Homo sapiens: one gene and its partners. The protein of the gene in region 4 purifies or fractionates together with the protein of the main gene of each other region. This does not show direct contact. Each region holds a gene or a part of one and is shown on either strand. Other genes may lie near its edges.

Region 1 (5,591 bases), on a different chromosome or scaffold from region 4:
TATTTAAGTTCTTGGGCAACTTGCTACTTTCTGTTTATTTTTTTTGAGATGGAGTCTTGCTCTGTCATCCAGGCTGGAGTGCAGCTGCGCTATCTTGGCTCATTGCAACCTGCGCCTCCCAGGTTCAAGTGATTCCCCCTCCTCAGCTTCCTGAGTAGCTGGGATTACAGACACGTGCCACCAGGCCCAGCTAATTTTGTATTTTTAGTAGAGACCAGGTTTCACCATGTTGGCCAGGCTGGTCTTGAACCCCTGACCTCAAGTCATCTGCCCAACTTGGCCTGTCAAAGTTCTGTGATTACATGCATGAGCCACAGCACCCATCCTCCTTCTATTTCTTTTCTGACTTATTTTTTGTCTCTCCCTCTGCTCTTAGGGTTAATAATCTTCACTTCTCTACCTAAATTTTTTTCTTCATTGTGTGTTGTTTTGGTACCGTGTTTTTTTCTGAGGTCAGAAATATTCCCATCAGACGTTGTGGAGCTATTTCTTGATTGTGACTGTGTGTTTCAACCCTTACCTATGAAGATGTTTGTTCATCTAGCAAATATTTATTGAAGACTCATTAGATGTTGGGATACAAAGGTAGACATAGGTGTTCTTATGGTCTCCTTATGGAGTTTATTCCAGTGGGGAGTATAGGTATTTGATAAATATTGAAATTTAGACTGAAACAAGTATTCTGAAGGAAATAAACAAGGGCTGACAGAGGGAAGAAGGAGTGAGGCGAGCCCTGGGTATTTACAGGGATTAGAGTCTTCAGTCATAGCATCCTTAATCCCCTTGAAAAGTTGGAATCACGAATCATAATTGCGTAAATTTAAGTTTCCTTGCTGCCATCTAAGTCTTCAGTCTTCATTTAAGATTGATTGCTACATGTAATATGTGTCTGATATTTAATGTATGATAATACTGGGTTTTACATAGTCAAGGATAACTAGGACTTATAAATATCTAGCATGCTTGACTAATGAGTTTAATTTTTTACTTTTTTTTTGTGGCAGGGTCTCACTCTGTGGCCCAGGCTGGAGTGCAGTGGTGCAATCTTGGCTCACTGCAGCCTCCACCTCCCGGGTTCAAGCGATTCTCGTGCCTCAGCCTCCCGAGTAGCTGGGACTACAGGTGTGTGCCACCACGTCCGGCTAATTTTTGTATTTTGAGTAGAGATGGGGTTTCACCATGTTGGCCAGGCAGATCTCGAACTCCTGACTTTAGGTGATCTGCCCACCTTGGCCTCCCAACATGTTGGGATTATAGGCGGGAGCCACTGTGCCTGACCTGAAGTTGTGTTTCTTTAAAATGAGCTGAAGCAAATTTTATATTTCATGATTTCATCACTTATTTCTACTCTCTAGAATAGATCACAGGTATATATACCTATAGTATAATGAAGCATCTGAAATTTTGCTGAGTTGGAGAGGATTAATAAGCACATTTGATTTGCAGAGAAAATTGGAGTATTTTATTCTAGGCGACCACTGAAAACAGGACAGAAAAATATCTCTCCCCAGACTTTTGAATAGCAGCATAGTGGCACTGAGTCCTGGAGCCAAGCAGCCTGGTTCAAATTCCAGCACCCCTGCTTACTAGCTATACAACTTGGGCAAGTTACTTAGTCTCTCTGTGCCTCTCCTCATCTGTAAAATACCATACAGTTGTTGTAAGAACTAAATTAGTTAATATGTATAAAGCATTTAGAACAGCACTAGGTGCTGTATATGCCAGTTGTTAGTAACAATGTTATTATAACAAAATAAAGTTTTCCAAAAGAACACATGATAATGATTCTTAGATTGAAGTTTAGATGCTTTGGGAAAACTTTAATAGGGAATAGGAAGTTAAAACAGCATATTTGTCCCTCTTTCCCCACAGTACCCTTCAAAATAAAGTAAAAGGATATAGGTTCAAATCCTAGCTAGGAAAAAAAAAGTAAAAAGATGGATCTTTATTTTTAATTAAAAAATTATTTTTTTATTATTTTTTGGAGACAGTCTTGCTCTGGTGCGGTGGCACAATCTTGGCTCATTGCAGCCTCTGCCTCCTGGGTTCAAGCGATTCTTGTGCCTCAGCCTCCCGAGTAGCTGGGATTACAGGTGTGTGCCACCACACCTGGCTAATTTTTGTATTTCTTTTAGTAGAGTCAGAGTTTTGCCATGTTGGCCAGGCTTGTGTTGAACTCTGGCTTCAAGTGATCTGCCCACCTCGATCTCCCTAAGTGCTGGAATTACAGGTGTGAGCCAGTGCGTCCAGTTTTAAAAATCATTATTATTTTCGGCTGGGTGCAGTGGCTAATGCCTGTAATCCCAGCACTTTGGGAGGCTGAGGCGGGTGGATCACCTGAGGTTGGGAGTTCATGACCAGCCTGACCAACGTGGAGAAACCCTGTCTCTGCTAAAAATACAAATTAGCTGGGTGTGGTGGTGCATGCCTGTAATCTCAGCTACTCGGGAGGCTGAGGCAGGAGAATAGCTTGAACCCCGGAGGCGGAGGTTGTGGTGAGCTGAGATCATGCCATCACACTCCAGCCTGGGCAACAAGAGCGAAACTCCGTCTCAAAAGAAAAAAAAAATTATTGTTATTTTCCAATTATAAAAGTCTTTATGCCTGGTGTGGTGGCCCACACCTTTAAACCCAGCAATTTGGGAAGCTAGGAATATATATATATATATATATATATATATTTTTTTTTTTTTTTTTTTTTTTTTTTTTTTGAGATGGAGTCTTGCTCTGTCACCCAGGCTGGAGTGCAGTGGCGTGATCTCAGCTCACTGCAACCTCCGCCTCCTTGGTTCAAGCGATTCTCCTGCCTCAGCCTCCTGAGTAGCTGGGACTACAGGCGTGTGCCATCACGCCTGGCTAATTTTTGTATTTTTAGTAGAGTCGGGCTTTCACCATGTTAGCCAGGATGGTCTCGATCTCCTGACCTCGTGGTCCACCTGCCTCGGCCTCCCAAAGTGCTGGGATTACAAGTGTGAGGCACCATGCCCAGCGTTTTTTTTTTGGAATTATTTATTTATTTATTTATTTTTATTGATCATTCTTGGGTGTTTCTCGCAGAGGGGGATTTGGCAGGGTCATAGGGCAATAGTGGAGGGAAGCTCAGCAGATAAACAAGTGAACAAAGGTCTCTGGTTTTCCTAGGCAGAGGACCCTGCGGCCTTCCGCAGTGTTTGTGTCCCTGGATACTTGAGATTAGGGAGTGGTGATGACTCTTAACGAGCATGCTGCCTTCAAGCATCTGTTTAACAAAGCACATCTTGCACCGCCCTTAATCCATTTAACCCTGAGTGGACACAGCACATGTTTCAGAGAGCACAGAGAGCACAGTCGCCCAGGCTGGAGTGCAGTGAGTGGTGTGATCTCAGCAACCTCTACCTCCCAGGTTCAAGCGTTTCTCCTGCCTCAGCCTCCTGAGTAGCTGGGTTTATAAGCACCCACCACCTCATCCAGCTAATTTTTGTATTTTTAGTAGAGACAGGGTTTCACCATGTTGGCCAGTCTGGTCTTGAACTCCTGACCTCAGGTGATCCACCCATCTCAGCCTCCCAAAGTGTTGGGATTACAGGTGTTAGCCACTGAGCCTGGCAACAATTTTTTAAAATTAGCTGGAAATGGTGGTGCATGCCTGTATTTCCAGCTGCTTGCGAGGCTGAGGCAGGAGGACTGCCTGAGCCTAGGAGATCAAGGCTGCAGTGAGCCAAGATCACACCACTGCACTCCATCCTGGGCATCATCATGGCAAGACCCTGTCTCAGAAAAATTAAAAAAAAAATTCTTTCTAGTGATTATAGCAGAGTGTGTATTTTTCAGTCATTCATTTGTTTTTTTTGTTTTTTTTCTTTTTATTATTATTATTATACTTCAAGTTTTAGGGTACATGTGCACAATGTGCAGGTTAGTTACATATGTATGCATGTGCCATGCTGGTGTGCTGCACCCACTAACTCGTCATTTAGCATTAGGTATATCTCCTAATGCTATCCCTCCCCCCTCCCCCCACCCCACAACAGTCCCCAGAGTGTGATGTTCCCCTTCCTGTGTCCATGTGTTCTCATTGCTCAATTCCCACCTATGAGTGAGAACATGCGGTGTTTGGTTTTTTGTCCTTGTGATAGTTTACTGAGAATGATGATTTCCAATTTCATCCATGTCCCTACAAAGGACATGAACTCATCATTTTTTATGGCTGCATAGTATTCCGTGGTGTATATGTGCCACATTTTCTTAATCCAGTCTATCATTGTTGGACATTTGGGTTGGTTCCAAGTCTTTGCTATTGTGAATAGTGCCGCAATAAACATACATGTGCATGTGTCTTTATAGCAGCATGATTTATAGTCCTTTGGGTATATACCCAGTAATAGGATGGCTGGGTGAAATGGTATTTCTAGTTCTAGATCCCTGAGGAATCGCCACACTGACTTCCACAATGGTTGAACTAGTTTACAGTCCCACCAACAGTGTAAAAGTGTTCCTATTTCTCCACATCCTCTCCAGCACCTGTTGTTTCCTGACTTTTTAATGATTGCCATTCTAACTGGTGTGAGATGGTATCTCATTATGGTTTTGATTTGCATTTCTCTGATGGCCAGTGATGGTGAGCATTTTTTCATGTGTTTTTTGGCTGCATAAATGTCTTCTTTTCAGAAGTGTCTGTTCATGTCCTTCGCCCACTTTTTGATGGGGTTGTTTTGTTGTTTTTTTTTTTTTTTTTTTTTTTTTTTGGAAATTTGTTTGAGTTCATTGTAGATTCTGGATATTAGCCCTTTGTCAGATGAGTAGGTTGTGAAAATTTTCTCCCATTTTGTAGGTTGCCTGTTCACTCTGATGGTAGTTTCTTTTGCTGTGCAGAAGCTCTTTAGTTTAATTAGATCCCATTTGTCAATTTTGGCTTTTGTTGCCATTGCTTTTGGTGTTTTAGACATGAAGTCCTTTCCCATGCCTATGTCCTGAATGGTAATGCCTAGGTTTTCTTCTAGCGTTTTTATGGTTTTAGGTCTAACGTTTAAGTCTTTAATCCATCTTGAATTAATTTTTGTATAAGGTGTAAGGAAGGGATCCAGTTTCAGCTTTCTACATATGGCTAGCCAGTTTTCCCAGCACCATTTATTAAATAGGGAATCCTTTCCCCATTGCTTGTTTTTCTCAGGTTTGTCGAAGATCAGATAGTTGTAGATATGCGGCATTATTTCTGAGGGCTCTGTTCTGTTCCATTGATCAATATCTCTGTTTTGGTACCAGTACCATGCTGTTTTGGTTACTGTAGCCTTGTAGTATAGTTTGAAGTCAGGTAGCGTGATGCCTCCAGCTTTGTTCTTTTGGCTTAGGATTGACTTGGCGACAGTCATTCATTTGATAAATGTTTGTTGCATGTGTATTCCTTCAGTAGGCAGTGAGGATACCATAATGCTGTGTATTATGTACTATGGCTTTTTTTTTTTTGAGTTATGAAATATCCCTGTGAGGCCTTTTACAACTATTTCTTGATTGTGATTCTGCATCTCAATTCGTACCTTTTCAGACTTTTGTTTATCTAGCAAATATTGGTTCTGATCAGAACCAGTCCTTATTGAATGCTTTGTGCCAGGTAC
Region 2 (5,591 bases), on a different chromosome or scaffold from region 4:
AGGAGTTGGAGACCTGCCTGGCCAATATGGTGAAACCCCATCTCTACTAAAAATACAAAAATTAAGCAGGGCGTGGTGGTGCATGCCTGTAGTCCCAGCTACTTGGGAGGCTGAAGCAGGAGAATCACTTGGATCCAGGAGGCAGAGGTTGCAGTGAGCCGAGATCACGCCACTGCACTCCAGCCTGGGCAACAAAGCAAGACTCCGTCTCAACAACAACAACAAAAAAAACAAAAGGCAGATTCATCTTTCTTGTAGTTTGTATTTTTAACTGCATGAGGTAGGGTGACAAAAGTATTTGTACATCAAAACAGACAAAACTGACAAGTTCAAGGGAAGAGACATTGTCAGTATCAAATCTTAAAGACAGGCTGATTATTGTATCTTTTTAAAAAAACCCCTTTATTGAAAAACATTATATCTGTCTTAGTAAATACACAAATGCCACACACTCTAAGTGGATTTTTATTCTTTACTGTACTAGAATTTGAGAGGTAAAATAACCCTTATACTCAAAAGTTATCATTCTTATTTTCTTGTCCCTGTTAAAGGGCTGAAAGAATCTACAAGCTTATAAACACATGGGTGATTAGTTCACCAGTATTTCTATAATTTTGAAAATATTACTAGTAACAAACTTTTCAATGGTCTTACCTTTGTTGAAAGTACTTTAAACGTGCTCTGTTCTGGTATTATAGGATGAAGAAGTTCCAGTTTCAAATTGTAATCCTCTCCAGAAGGAAGTTTAACCAAAGCAGACAACTAATGAACACAAAATTAGCATCACATTTTGTAAATGTATATAATGGAGGGTAAAAAACCTACACAAAATAATGACAAATCTTCAATAATGTTACAAATTATTTTAAACATTATATATGGAATTTTAGATTTAAGAACCTCAAAAGGTTCTCAAAGATTTAAGAACCTTTTTTTTCCATCTGGTATCCTTGACATGAATTCTTATAGACATCATTAAACAGCAGAAAAGAATAAGTTTCATAATATTTGTCATATATTTAATCACACCTATTTGATATTTAGATTTCAAGAAAACATACAAAAGCAAAATGATATATAACAAAAAGTGATCCATGTGCAAAACATACAGTTCTATCACTACCTCTTTTAAATAATCTATTATAAGGTTCTCTACTAAATGGTAAGAAATCAAGTTGTTAAAAGTCATACTCAAGAGGCTGGGCACGGTGGTGCATGCCTCTAATCCCAGCACTTTGGGAGGCTGAGATGGGTAGATCACTTGAGGTCAGGAATTCGACAACAGCCTGGCCAACATGGTGAAACCCCGTTTCTACAAAAATTAGCCAGGCACGGTGGCATGTGCCTGTAGTCCCAACTACTCAGGAGGCTGAGGCAGGAGAATTGTTTGAACCCAGGAGGAGGAGGCTGCAGTGAGCCGAAATTGCGCCACTGCACTCCAGCCTACGCAAGAGCGAGACTCTGTCTCAAAAAACAACAACAAAAAAAGTCATACTCATTTAACATGGCTAGTCAATTCTAAGACATGTGTGATCACAAAACTAACTAGATCTTTTTCATGAAGTACACCACACAAGTATAACCAAAGCACATTATCTTACTAATATAACCAAATTCTGCTTTAAATTTCAAATCTAAAGAAAAAAATGCACATCCAGCTATAATTTACCAACATACATATTCTTACCTCAAAGCAATGGCTTCAGATTTTATTCAACATTTTCCAAATCATCTCAGGAAGAAATAGCATTTATCTGATAAACCGTTATCGATTATTCTGCAATATACTAAATTTGCAAATAATAGTAATCAACATTGAAAAATGATTCAGTCTACTGACCTCTTTTTCTGAAAATTCCACATTTACATCATTCTTCTGAACATTCTTGATCATAAGTGTAATGACTACTTGAGATTCTGTTTGATACCAGTCATACCTATTAAAAAAAAAAAAGAAACTTAGGTAACTCTTCTAATTTTTTTAAAGCTATTGTCAAAACAAAAACTAGTCTGATAAACAACAAGAGCCCCACCTGGAGGAAGAAAACAGCAAAGCAACTACTGATTCACAGAAACAACTTTATATAACTAGTTTTTTATGCTCTGTACTAATGGAAAAAAATGGTAAGGTAAATGATGCTCACACCTTTCCAGTAGACTTAAATACTTGCATGATTTTCTGGGTTCTGACTCATCTCTAGCACTGTTGTGCTTAAACTAATATAAATATTAAAGATGTCATTTATTTTAAACAAGCTAATATTTATATGCCATCAATAGAGTTTTTATACTCTCATTTCATCCAAATACTACAGATAAACACTTAAATCCCTATTTTACAGATGATAAAACTTAAGCTCAGAAAGGTGAAGCAATAAGCCTGAGTCAACACTCCAAGCTCTCAAAACTGATGTTGGAAGCAGATAGACTTGAGCACACAAAACAGGGGCAAATGAACTAAAATTAAAATCATATGAAGTTTAACTGTGTCAGGCACAACATCATATACAACACTTTCCTTCAATTTCAAGATACATGGAAAGACTAATGGGTCTAGATTCTAATTATGTGCATCTTTTGTACTGAAAGCTCTAGAAACGTAGGAATCCTCACTTTCAAATTAGACTAGATTAAAAGCTCTCTGAGGGCAGAGCTGTTTATCCTGTCGCTATTATATCCCTAGGACCAAGCACAGTGTCCGGTACACGTATATTAAGTTAGATGTGGGATTATTTTATGCTCTGAACACCTTAATTATTATTTCATGGTTATGTGCCCTACCCCTGCTGCTGCCACCAGGGCAAGTCAAAGTTCCTTATCTACTAGGTACTTGGAGTTTCATCCTGTATCTCCCCACAACTACCATGAATAGATGGTTTTTAACTTTTCCAGGCCATTTTAGGTAATTATATCCAAAACCACCTTGATTAAAGAAATGAACTTTAAGAGTCTCGGTTTCCCTTTGCAATTCAGTAAGGATGCAAAGCTCCAGATCAACGGCTTGTGTTTCTGTTACGGTCCTAAGAATACAAGCTGTACACAGGCTAATGAATAATTAAAAGTCAAAGACTTGCTAGTTGCTTATTCATTATTATAATTGCTGCCCTCAGCAATATTAACTTTCAACGCATACAGAATGTTCCTATGAAAAATTTGCTCCAAATATAAAAGGCAGGTTAAGTTACAATTCTGTTAGATCTACTACTAACTTGTTTACCTGTGTAGTAACATAAACTTAACTGGAAGAGACTCTCCTTAACATATGGAAAGGTAACATAATATGAAACCAAGTGAAGCAACTTTAAAGATGAGAAATGATTTGAATTTAACTGAAGTACAAATATTAATCCTTAAACAGCCTTAAAATTGGCTTTACATAAAGCTATTACACAATTTTAGAAAACAAACAAAAACTTAAAAATCACATGGTAAGAATTTGCTTACTATTAAACTACAGGGTTTCTTCCTCTTTAGGCATATTTATCATGCATTGTTTTATGAAAAAGAAACACTCACTTGATTTTTGACTGATGAGTCCACTGGGATGCAGATTGATTTTGGTAAGTTGAAAGAGAAAGATTTTTACAAGTCAGTTTAGCAACTGTATTATTAAAATGCATGTATTATTAATTTACCCAACACTGCAGTTATTTTGATATAAAATAACTACATGAAAATTTTCTTCAAAGACATAGTAACTGTAATTGTTAAATACCACTAGTTTTCGGAAAAAAATTAGAATGCTCAGCATTTAAAAAATCTTAGATTGAATTTCATAAAAGATTTTTGCTCTAAAATAACAGAACTTTAAATAACAGAAAACTTCTAAAGGCATGATTAGAAAAGGTTGCTTATATAAAATGGCCAGTTCTAAGATTCAGCAACTTCCTAAACTAAAATAACATTGTTTTAAAAATCGTTTTAAAGAAACAGAGTAATTAGCCAGGCTTGGTGGTGTACATCTGTAGTCCCAGCTACTTGGAAGGCTGAGGTGGGAAGATTGCTTGAGCCCAGGAGTTTGAAGCTCAAGTGCACTATGATGGCACCACTGCACTCCAGCCTGCATGACAGAGCAAGACCCTGTCAATTTCCAATTTTCTTTAACTTTTGTCTTAGCCTATCATAAAAAGCCCTACAAGTGATTCAAACTGTTGAACCTAAATAAATGCAATAAGGTTTTAGTAACGAAAAGATAAATGATCATCATGACCATATTAAAACACACGAAATCAACTTTAACCACACACTAAATTCATTAAAATAGGCCAATAATTTTCATGACTGGAAACTTCTATATTTATCAAAAAATGATTTTATTTCAGTGCCTAGAGGAACCAGCACTTAAATGGAATTGCTTAATATTTAAATATCAGACAGCTCATCCTGAGTCTTGTCTCAAATATATTTGGTAGCTGAAATTTAAAATAATAAAAACATGAAGAATGAAAACTTTGGACTTACCACCTCAGATTCTGAGCCTATTAAAACATAAAAAGGAAACATTTTCAGGGAACAGTGCATTTTTAAGCAAAGTTATTTGTATGATTTCTATAGCACAAACATACTGATTAAGCAAGCAAATTCTCCGTACCTTTCAACTAAAGAAAAGTGGTTTCATTTTGCATCCTGAATTCATTTTAGACTCCTTAGTAATTTCTTACTGATATACCATACAAGCAAATCCACCCAAATCCCCCTTTCAACATAAGAAGCTATGCAAAAACCAGTGTATCTTTGGAAGTCCACATCTAAGGAAACGTATACTATTTAAAAGAAATTATAAAGATAAAAACAAATTTGTTTAAACCAAAAAAATTTCAGATGTTTACTTCTTTTTAAATTGAAACAAATACCAAGGGAGACCCACATACCATTCTGAGCTTCTTGACACCTTTTAATCCAGACACTGAAATTAGCATCTGCACCTAGAAAGAAAAAACTGACTATAACATCACTCATCTGCACAACCTATAAATCAACAAATACTTACTGAATACCTACTACATCCCAGGCAGTGTTCTAGGCACTGGGGAGTCGGCAGCGAACAAAACCTGTCTTAACAGACCTTATCACCAACTCTACTATAGTTATAAATATACCAATAGTTTAACATTTAGTTGTTAATCATGAAACATTTTGATTTTTTAAAAATTTTAACTACAGTCAACCTTAATTTCACAGATACAAATAATCTGCATTTCCCCCAATCCCGCTGCTCTTAGAGAAGCTTCCTCACACACAGAACAAAATCAGATGTAAATCAGACTCCCAATATGCCATCAGTTAGGGTGGGGAGGAGGCTTGGTAACTGGGAGCTGAGTTGAGGTTCAAAAGCCGTTCCCAGCCCCAGCTTGCTCTTCAATGCAGATACCTATTCAGTCCACTATTCTCTCAGTGGCTTTATCTGTTACCATGCCTTTCCTACCAACACCAAGCATCTTTAAATTCCGTGAAGTTTTGTCCTATCTCCAAGTTACATGGCAGTCGAGAGGCTATAGGTGATGTATTATATATTTATAGATAACAGTGTAAATGTATGCATAAACAAATTATTCACTTCTGGAGACACAGAACAATGATTACATTTAAAC
Region 3 (5,591 bases), on a different chromosome or scaffold from region 4:
AAAAAAATAAGGTTCCAGTGTAGTTGGCATTTTCTAAAAACTGCAGCTAGTCTGTTTAAAACCTAGAGAAGGTTGTGGTAAAGGCATAATAGATGGCTGGCCTGTGAGGAACTGAAATTTAAAGTTTAATAAAAATACCTTTCTTAACTCTTTTAGACCTTCTCTTCCACCTTCTAAACAAGCTAACAAGAATCTGATTTTGAAGGCTATATCTGAAGCTCAAGAATCCGTAACAAAAACAACTAACTACTCTACAGGTAATTTAAATGTATTATGTTTACACTTGGTAAGACATTTCTGTAATTCTTGAGTAAGGTGAAAATGATTGCTCCTTAAATTGTAAAATAAAGGTGCCTGTCAGATGTCAAGACCAAGATGAGGTTCCCATATAGAAAAATGGCTTTAAAAGGAAATTGACAAGTTTGAGAAACTTCGCCAACTGTTATTGGACTGTAGTTTTTCAAGCACCATATAATGCCTTTTATATCTTTCCAATGTGTGTAAAATATATAGTACGTAAATATTTTGAAGAGAATTTTGATGAAGTAGGACTTTCATATTAGTAGCATTAGATTCAACATTAGATATGAATTTACGATGTGTAAAGGGGAGTACAATTGGACAATGATAGGTATCTGAAGTTATAGAAATTTGTTAAACAGTAGTATATAAACAAGGTTGGTTTCTTCCCTTTTGGCGGAACTCATTAGTAGAATATAAGGCAGAGAATTGACTCATTTGTGATGTTCCTGCTCCAATTCTAGTGGAAGTACTGAATAATTTTATGAGAGAATATAAAAGTATTACGTTTTCAAAACAGGAGATGAATCAGCTGTAAGCTGGTCTTACGGAAAGCTGATTCTGAAATGCAAACAACTGATGGGTGTCATTTTGTGTTGTCAAATTCTGTACTCTCTGGCCGACCTGTTGTAGCCAATGTGTAAACTTGTGTTAAGAAGCTGATGGTAATGAGCTACTCTAAAAAGATTTAAGTTTTGCTGTGGATTTGGTGGGTGTACTTACAGCATTGCCCTGCTTATCCACTCTCTCGCTTTTTTTTGTGACCCCCCTTCCTAAAATGAGGTAAACTGTAGCCATCAGTTTTTTTATTTGTTTTCTTTTTTTGAGGCGAAGTCTTGCTCTGTTGCCCAGGCTGGAGTGCAGTGGTGTGATCTTGGCTTACTGCAATCTCTGCCTCCTGGGTCCAAGCGATTCTCCTGCCTCAGCCTCCCAAGTAGCTGGGATTACAGGCGCCCACTACCATGCCAGGCTAATTTTTTTGTATTTTTAGTAGAGGCGGGGTTCCACCATGTTGGCCAGGCTGGTCTCGTACTCCTGACCTCAGGTGATCACCTGCCTCCTCGGCCTCCCAAAATGCTGGGATTACAAGCGTGAGCCACCGCGCCTGGCACCATCAGTTTTTGATCCTGATACTTGTCTGTCCTCTTGGTTCTCCTCATCCCTAATTTAACCTTGAACACAAAATTCAACAGGTTTTGGCATATAGAATAAAGATTATCAGGCAAAGGCGCACTCTTGACCTAATGATATATCTACATTTCATTTCCTGATCTATCAGCAATATTAATTGTCTAGAATGATGAGAAGTTTAGAGAAGTTCCATGACTTTGAAATTTTCTTTCTTTACCTAGGTTATCTAAATTACAATTTGAAACTCATATAAGATCATGAAGCTAAGCTTAAATAAACCGCATTTTGTTGAAAATGAATACATATGTACTATATTGTATTCATGGTATGTGGTTGTATGGATATTGTTTACATATGTTTGGATAAATAGGTTCAGGTATCTATCTCAGTAACGTAAGAAAAAATGAATGGTATCTATGGATTGAACTCCTCATATATATGTTCTTTTCTTTTCTTTTTCTTTTTTTTTTGGAGACAGAGTCTCACTCTGTTGCCCAGGCTGGAGTGCACAGTGGTGCAATCTCGGCTCACTGCAACCTCCGCCTTCCGGGTTTAAGCAATTCTCCTGCCTCAGCCTCCTGAGTAGTTGGGATTACAGGTGTGTGCCACTATGCCCGGCTAGTGTTTGTATTTTTAGTAGAAACGAGGTTTTACCATGTTGGCCAGGCTGGTCTCAAACTCCTGACCTCAAGTGATCCACCCACCTTGCCTCCCAAAGTGCTGAGATTACAGGCATGAGCCACTGCGCCCAGCCTGAACTCATATGTCCTAAACCAAAGGAGGCATTTATATTTAATATGACATAGTCACTGTGGAGTTTTGACGTATTACTGCATTTGTATTTCTATCTTTTTTGCTTTTATGTGAAAGTTCCACAGAAACAGACACTTCCAGTTGCTCCCAGAACTCGAACTTCTCAAGAAGAATTGCTAGCAGAAGTGGTCCAGGGACAAAGTAGGACCCCCAGAATAAGTCCCCCCATTAAAGAAGAGGAAACAAAAGGAGATTCTGTAGAAAAAAATCAAGGTAATAACTTAAATGATGTTTCACTCTTTACTACAGTTTTTTCATGAGGCATTGAATATTTTCCAATGGATTTTTATGAAATATTACACTATGAAAAAAGTGATGATTAAGCCCAGAAATAGAATGAGAAGAATACCATGAGGAAGGTTCATACCAACACTTCAGAAAAAAATTTTTTTTTTAAAGAGGTAGGGTCTTGCTGTGTTGCCCAGGCAGTCCTCAAACTCCTGGGCTCAAGCAGTCCTCCTGCCTCAGCATCCTTAGTAGCTGGAGGTGTGTACAAGTGTGTGCCACTGCACCCAGCCCTTTCTAGAAATTTTTGAAAGTCTTTTTATTGTGGAAATTTTTAATATTCTCAAAAATGGAAAGGCTAGTACAGTGAACTCTCATGAACCCAGTCATTAAGCCTTAGTTATTATCAGAATTTTGCTGGTCTTTAGATAGCTCCTTCTTAAAGATATATTTATTTCTGCATTCTTTCTTTTTCTCTTTTTGTTGATCCTGCCCGTTTACCTGAACTTGAAATTTTAGTTACCTTTAAATCTCCCGTCTCTTAAGCATCCTGTCTCTGACCTCCCATATGTGTCCCAGCAACCCTAATTTATCCCCTCGTGCCTAACATACTTCAGTTTGCTTCCAGGTTTTTTTTTTTTTTTTTTTTTTTTGCTTTTTTCTCAGCTTTCTCCCCCAATTCCTATACAATCTTTTGACTTTGAAAGTGTGTCTCTCATCTTCTGACTCCTTTGTGAAAGTATCTCTCCCCTCCTCCTCATTACCCAGAACTAACGCTATTAGTTTGGACTTTTGGTGTCTGTTATCTGACCCCTGGGCCTGCACAGCCCTTCTCCATGACTCTTCAGACCTTTTGTCTCTTTTGTCGTCAAGAAGGATTCTTTTTTCTTCTGTTTCTTTTTCTACTAAGATTTGAATTTTAAGACCCCACCAAAAAAATCTATATGCTTATTATGTTATTTCTCACATACTTTTCAAGAACCTTGGAATATATTTTTTCATTTCTTCAAAACTGTCCTTTAAATTGTTCCAGGTTTCATGAAACCTTATGATTTCAGAATTGTCAATTCTGTATTTGTTTCCTCATTGTGTCTCTTTAAAAATTTTTGACTGTATTGTTCAGTTTGCCATGACAGCGTTATATACTATTCTGATAATTGATAGGCCTGAGGACAAGACCTGTTTGGTCCCCAAACAGCAGATAGGTACCAATTGGAAAATGTGAATGGGCCAAATTGAGAAGAGGAGCTGAAACTGAGGAGGGATTTTGCTCAGTGCAGTGGCAGATGAGGCTGATCTAAAAGGACTGCAGTGGTCTACTCCCTGTGGAGTCTGTAGTGTGTTGCACCAAGGTTTTCTTCAAACACAGGACTCTACGTGAGAGTCTTGGAGTGGAATCAGATGGAGCAGGGAAACAGACAATAGAGAAAAGGAAAGAATGTCAGATAAAAATAGGAGAGGAAAACAATAGGAAATCTCAAAGCAAGGTGCCATATTTTTTAACATCACAAAATCAACAGAAGAAGGTTGTTGATTCTGAAGTTAGAATAGCTATCCAAAGCAAACTTTCCCCTAAAATGAACAACAGAAAAGTATCAAGGTCAAGTCCTGTGCCGAATTAAAAGATAAAAGGGAATAAAAGACAAAACAGCATTGTTTCAATGAAAGCATGCTGAAAGGTATACCAAAAAGAAATACAATTTCAAAGTGAGCTAGAAGACATTATTTAAATAATACAAGACAAAGCCAAGAAAAACATAAAACAGAAGAACTTTGAGGCTGGGTGCAGTGGCTCATGCCTGTAATCCCAACACTTTGGGAGGCTGAGGCAGGAGGATCACTTGAGACTAGCCTGGGCAGCATAGCAAAACCCTGTCTCGACAAAAAATAAAAATATTAGCTGGGCAAGGTATACACCTGTAGTCCTGTCTCCTTGGGAGGCTGAAGTGGGAGGATTGCTGGAGCCCGGGAGGCTGAGGTGGGAGGATTGCTGGAGCCCAGGAGGCTGAGGTTGCAGTGAGCCACGATCATACCATTGCCCTCCAGGGAGGCTGAGGTGGGAGGATTGCTGGAGCCCAGGAGGCTGAGGTTGCAGTGAGCCATGATCATGCCATTGCCATCTAGTTTGGGCGATAGAGTGAGACTGTGTCTCAAAATAAATGAAGACTAAATTAGAAAGAACTCGAAAGAATTAGTGCGTCTTAATAAAATAAAACATGCGTGTAATCCCAGCAATTTGGGAGGCCAAGGCGGGAGGATCACTTGAGGCCAGGAGTTGAAGATCAGCCAGGGCAACATAGCAAAACCTTATGGCTACAGAAAACAGCAATTTAAAAATAAATAAAATTAAAACATCTTCAGAGAAATTGAAGATAAAAGACAAGAACATTTTAAAAGTCTAAAAGGGCTCATGAGAAAGTGGCAAATATTGATAATAGGCAATAGAAATACAGTGTTTTTATAGTAGGAATCTCCAAAGAAACAATATTCAGAGGAACAGAGCAAACATTAACTGTCTTTCAAGAAAACTTTCATGAAGTGAAAACATGTTTGAAACTGTTGTCTGAAAAATTGTACAGTATACCTGAGAATATTTACCCAGAACCATAACACTAAGATGTATTATATAATTAATGAAATTTTAAAAAGAAAAAAAATGATTTGGACATTCAGGCAAAAGGGGCACATGACTTAGAAGAAAAGGAAAGGTAGATTATCATCAAACTTTTCAACAGCATCACTTTTGTGCTGGAAGAAAATGGACTAGCATATTTAAGATACTCCAGAAAAGAAAATGTGAGCCAAGAATTTAATGTCCAGCAAAAGTGACCTTTAGAAGTGATCCAGCACCAACTGTTATCTATATGCAGAAATTCAGAGACTCATTCCCATGAACTTTTCTTAGGAAATCTAATGGAGGATGAGCTTCAGACAAGTAAAAGCCTGTTGTCCTGAATTTACATTGGAAATGTTTCGGAACTCACAGTGTATTTTATATATAAATACATTTTTTTCTAGTTCTGTCTACTAGAAGGCATAGAAACATTCATCAACCCTTAGCATCATCTGTAGTTCCCAGATTGTGGTCTTGGAATACTTCCTATTTAAAAAACTAGGCTTCT
Region 4 (3,500 bases):
CAGATGGGCAGACCCTGTGTCATTGCTCAGGGAGTTCACAGTGTATTCATCCACTATAATAGGGTATGTTCCATAGAATTTGTCTTTCTGTTGTTAAAATCACGTCAGTCCTTTTTAGGGCCATACCTAGCGTCTGCTTTCTGATCTACAAGTAGAGTGGAGCTCTGAATGTTAAATGACAGGGATAAAGACCAAAGGACATCTGCCGTAATTCCTCAGTCAAAATTAAGGTCTGCAAGGTTGGAGGGTCCAGATGCTCACCCCTACTGGAGGAACAGCTCAGAATAAATGAGGTGTCTCCTTAGCAGCAGGGGCTGTAAATGCTGGCAAGAGAAAAGTATGGGTTATAAGAGCTGGCACTGTGACAGGATTTTTTTCCCCTGTTTTTTAGTTTAGTTGTCTCCCACCCCTTGTAGTACCAGTAGCAATATATTCCCATCGTCTGCTTTGCCTCTGCCACCTGCAGAAGGGTCTGGCAAGTGGGGGAGGAGCCTGCAGCTGTTGCCTGGAAAAGGAGCTGGCTCCTAGCAACAGTATCAGCAGGCCCTACAACTGAGAGCACCAAGTTTGTCCTTTGAGGTCTTACCCTTCCTTTCATACAGTTCAGCAAATATCTTTTGAGGGCTTACTTAGTACTAGGCACTATGTCAAGCCTGAGAAAGATAGATGAATCAAATAAGTACCTTGCCTTCAAAAAGCTCACCACTCTGGGTACATTAACAAGTGAACAGACATAGTACATGGTCCTAAGTGCTATGTAGGAGAGACTGGGTGCTCTGGGAAAACCAGACAGGCACGTACTGGTGCAGGGGTTAGGGAAGGTTTCCCAGAAGAGGGACGAAGTTAATGATGAGTAGGAATTAGCTAGGTCAGGTAGGCAGAGAAGGATGTTCCAGCCAAAGGGAACAGAACGAGCAATGGCCAGTGGGACATGAGAGCATGGCCAGTTTACCTGGGTAGTATGACAGGGCCAAAGAGTAGGACATAAGGAGATGAGCAGGAAAGGGTGAGGCTCTAGGGCTAGGCAGAGTACTCTTCTCTCATGTGCTTTTATACACATAATTATCCTTGAGAGAAACATGGATAGTACTGATTCCCACACACAGGTTCATTGTTTCATCTCCAGAGACTCAGCATTTTTGATCACGGACCTAATTGTGTGCTGACACTCATAAGTGCCTTCAGGGCCACATTGTGGCCCCACATTGATGCAGAAGAAGCTGAGTTGGTTCACTCTAAAACTCAATCAGATTATTTTAGGGATATTATCAGGCATGTATGATATTCTACCTCTCTTCTCCCTTTAAATTGTAGAAATAATCCTCAAATACCTTCATTTTATGTAACATAGCAATTTTTCATGTATTTTGAAATCTCATGGTTACTCAGGAGGAAAACAAGTATTCCAGTTAGTTCTTGGGCATATATTATTACCCACATGACTGCAGAAATGCCCAACTGTTTGACTTTTTTATGTTAAAACTGCCCTAATAGAACTTTAATAGATACGAAGTTTCCAAAGGCTAGAATAGTTTTTATGTAGCTCTTGTAATGGAGGTATTTATTTGTAGATAAAAAAAATCCTGTTGCTTTTGGTCTTTGTAAAGTTTAGCAAACGAGTAAATGTTGGTTCCACACTATCTGCTCGGGGACTATAAGATGCCAGGACACTGTGTTATAGAGTCTGCATGAATTCAGCGTGGTTCCTTTTCTCAAGGAGCCCAAAGCAGCAGATGGCAGACTCAGAAACAAATAAATACAACAGTGCACCGAGTGCAACCAAGAAGTGTGTGGAATGTGTCAAGCTAGCAAGGGAGTTATTTATTTCTAGTCTTTTTTCTGTGTCTAAACATGTTTTTTAAAAATTCATAATTTTAATGGCTTTATCACATTCCATGGTACGTGTAAGTCATAATGTATTTATTAACATCCCAATTGTTAGACATTTAGGTCGTTTTCCAATTGTTTTGCTAATATAAACTTGCTGCCATTAATTTACACATAAATGAATCTTTGCTGACATCTGTGACAACTTCCTTAGCATGAATTTTGAAGATGAGATTTTGACCTGGGTTTCTGTTTGTTTTTTTTTGAGACGGAGTCTCGCTCTTGTCACCCAGGCTGGAGTGCAATGAAACAATCTTGGCTCACTGTAACCTCTGTCTCCCGGGTTCAAGCGATTCTCTTGCCTCAGCCTCCTGAGTAGCTGGAACTACAGGCACGCACTACCACGCTCGGCTAATTTTTGTATTTTTAGTAGAGATGGGGTTTCACCATGTTGGCCAGGCTGGTCTCGAACTCCTGACCTCAGGTGATCCGCCCGCCTCGGCCTCCCAAAGTGCTGAGATTACAGGCGTGAGCTAATGCGTCCGGCCTTGACCTGGGTTTTGAAAGAAGAGTGGGAGATGGCCAGATAAACAAGAAAAAGGGAAGAGTAGGAAGGGGCATTCCAGGTAGCGGCAATAGAGGCAACCTTGAATGCCAAAGTTCCCAGGCAACTGGTGAGTTTTGCTTTTCCTAAACCAGCCACCAGGCCTGCCTGGTAGGCTCATAAAGCCCTGGGCACAGCAAGATGAAGTTACATGTTACAAATGGCATTTTAATTGGATTTGCTTCCCTGTGCCTTGCTTTTACAGTTGCAACCAAGGCAATGTCTTACTACCTCAGCTCAGAAAACCACCTGGACCCAGGGCCCATCTACATGCGAGAAAATGGGCAGCTGCACATGGTCAATCTGGCTCTGGATGGTGTCAGGAGTAGCCTGCAGAAGCCAAGGCCTTTCAGACTGTTCCCCAAAGGCTTTTCTGTGGAGCTTTGCATGAACAGGGAAGACGACACTGCACGGAAAGAGAAGACTGATCATTTCATCTTCACATACACCCGAGAGGGGAATCTTCGGTACTCCGCCAAATCCCTCTTCAGCCTTGTCCTGGGTTTCATCTCCGACAATGTGGATCACATTGATTCCCTTATTGGCTTTCCTGAGCAGATTGCTGAAAAGCTGTTCTCTGCTGCTGAAGCCAGACAGAAATTCACTGAGCCAGGTGCAGGGCTGAGGGCTTTACAGAAATTCACTGAGGCCTATGGAAGTTTGGTGCTTTGCTCCCTGTGTTTGCGAAACAGGTGGGTGTTCTGATTAGATTATTCGGTATTTTATTGGGTGTGTTAATTCTGTCAAGCTCTGGGGCTTAGTGGGCTCAGGGGCTTCCCTCATCAAATAGCACTTCAGTTTAGAACTTCCAAATATGAAGTAAAAGACCATATTGAAAAAAATCACTCTTCCTTCTCCTCACCTCTTAGATGACACTTAACTTTATTCTGAAATCATTTTACAAGGATTAGTTGTCACAGCTCCTCCATTAAGTAGAAAATATTATTCTAACAGCTTTCAAAGAGAAAATAGAAAAGACAAAATGTGATCTGCCAAATATCTCTTGATACGCTCTTACAGATGGGGAGATTAGTACCCAGAGTTTTTGGGCCTGTTTTTGGTTTTCAGA

What was found. Proteins that work in one complex are often made in the same cells at the same time.
Region 1: the proteins of LRRC42 (region 4) and AMBRA1 purify together in Homo sapiens (affinity purification with mass spectrometry, with the first as the bait; one large-scale study listed by BioGRID). This does not show direct contact.
Region 2: the proteins of LRRC42 (region 4) and SUGT1 purify together in Homo sapiens (affinity purification with mass spectrometry; 3 studies listed by BioGRID and IntAct, with this or other methods). This does not show direct contact.
Region 3: the proteins of LRRC42 (region 4) and ZC3H14 fractionate together in Homo sapiens (co-fractionation; one large-scale study listed by BioGRID). This does not show direct contact.

The regions. Positions count from the first base shown.
Region 1 is NC_000011.10:46,582,786-46,588,376, reverse strand, and holds part of AMBRA1 (activating molecule in BECN1-regulated autophagy protein 1), read left to right. Parts: intron 1-932; exon of another isoform or gene 933-1,122; intron 1,123-5,591. UniProt on the Homo sapiens protein: Substrate-recognition component of a DCX (DDB1-CUL4-X-box) E3 ubiquitin-protein ligase complex involved in cell cycle control and autophagy.
Region 2 is NC_000013.11:52,661,983-52,667,573, reverse strand, and holds part of SUGT1 (protein SGT1 homolog), read right to left. Parts: intron 4,926-5,591; coding exon 4,872-4,925; intron 4,479-4,871; coding exon 4,462-4,478; intron 3,540-4,461; coding exon 3,517-3,539; intron 1,938-3,516; coding exon 1,841-1,937; intron 763-1,840; coding exon 655-762; intron 1-654. UniProt on the Homo sapiens protein: May play a role in ubiquitination and subsequent proteasomal degradation of target proteins.
Region 3 is NC_000014.9:88,575,684-88,581,274, forward strand, and holds part of ZC3H14 (zinc finger CCCH domain-containing protein 14), read left to right. Parts: intron 1-156; coding exon 157-257; intron 258-2,301; coding exon 2,302-2,457; intron 2,458-5,591. UniProt on the Homo sapiens protein: RNA-binding protein involved in the biogenesis of circular RNAs (circRNAs), which are produced by back-splicing circularization of pre-mRNAs.
Region 4 is NC_000001.11:53,949,350-53,952,849, forward strand, and holds part of LRRC42 (leucine-rich repeat-containing protein 42), read left to right. Parts: intron 1-2,636; 5' UTR 2,637-2,650; coding exon 2,651-3,123; intron 3,124-3,500.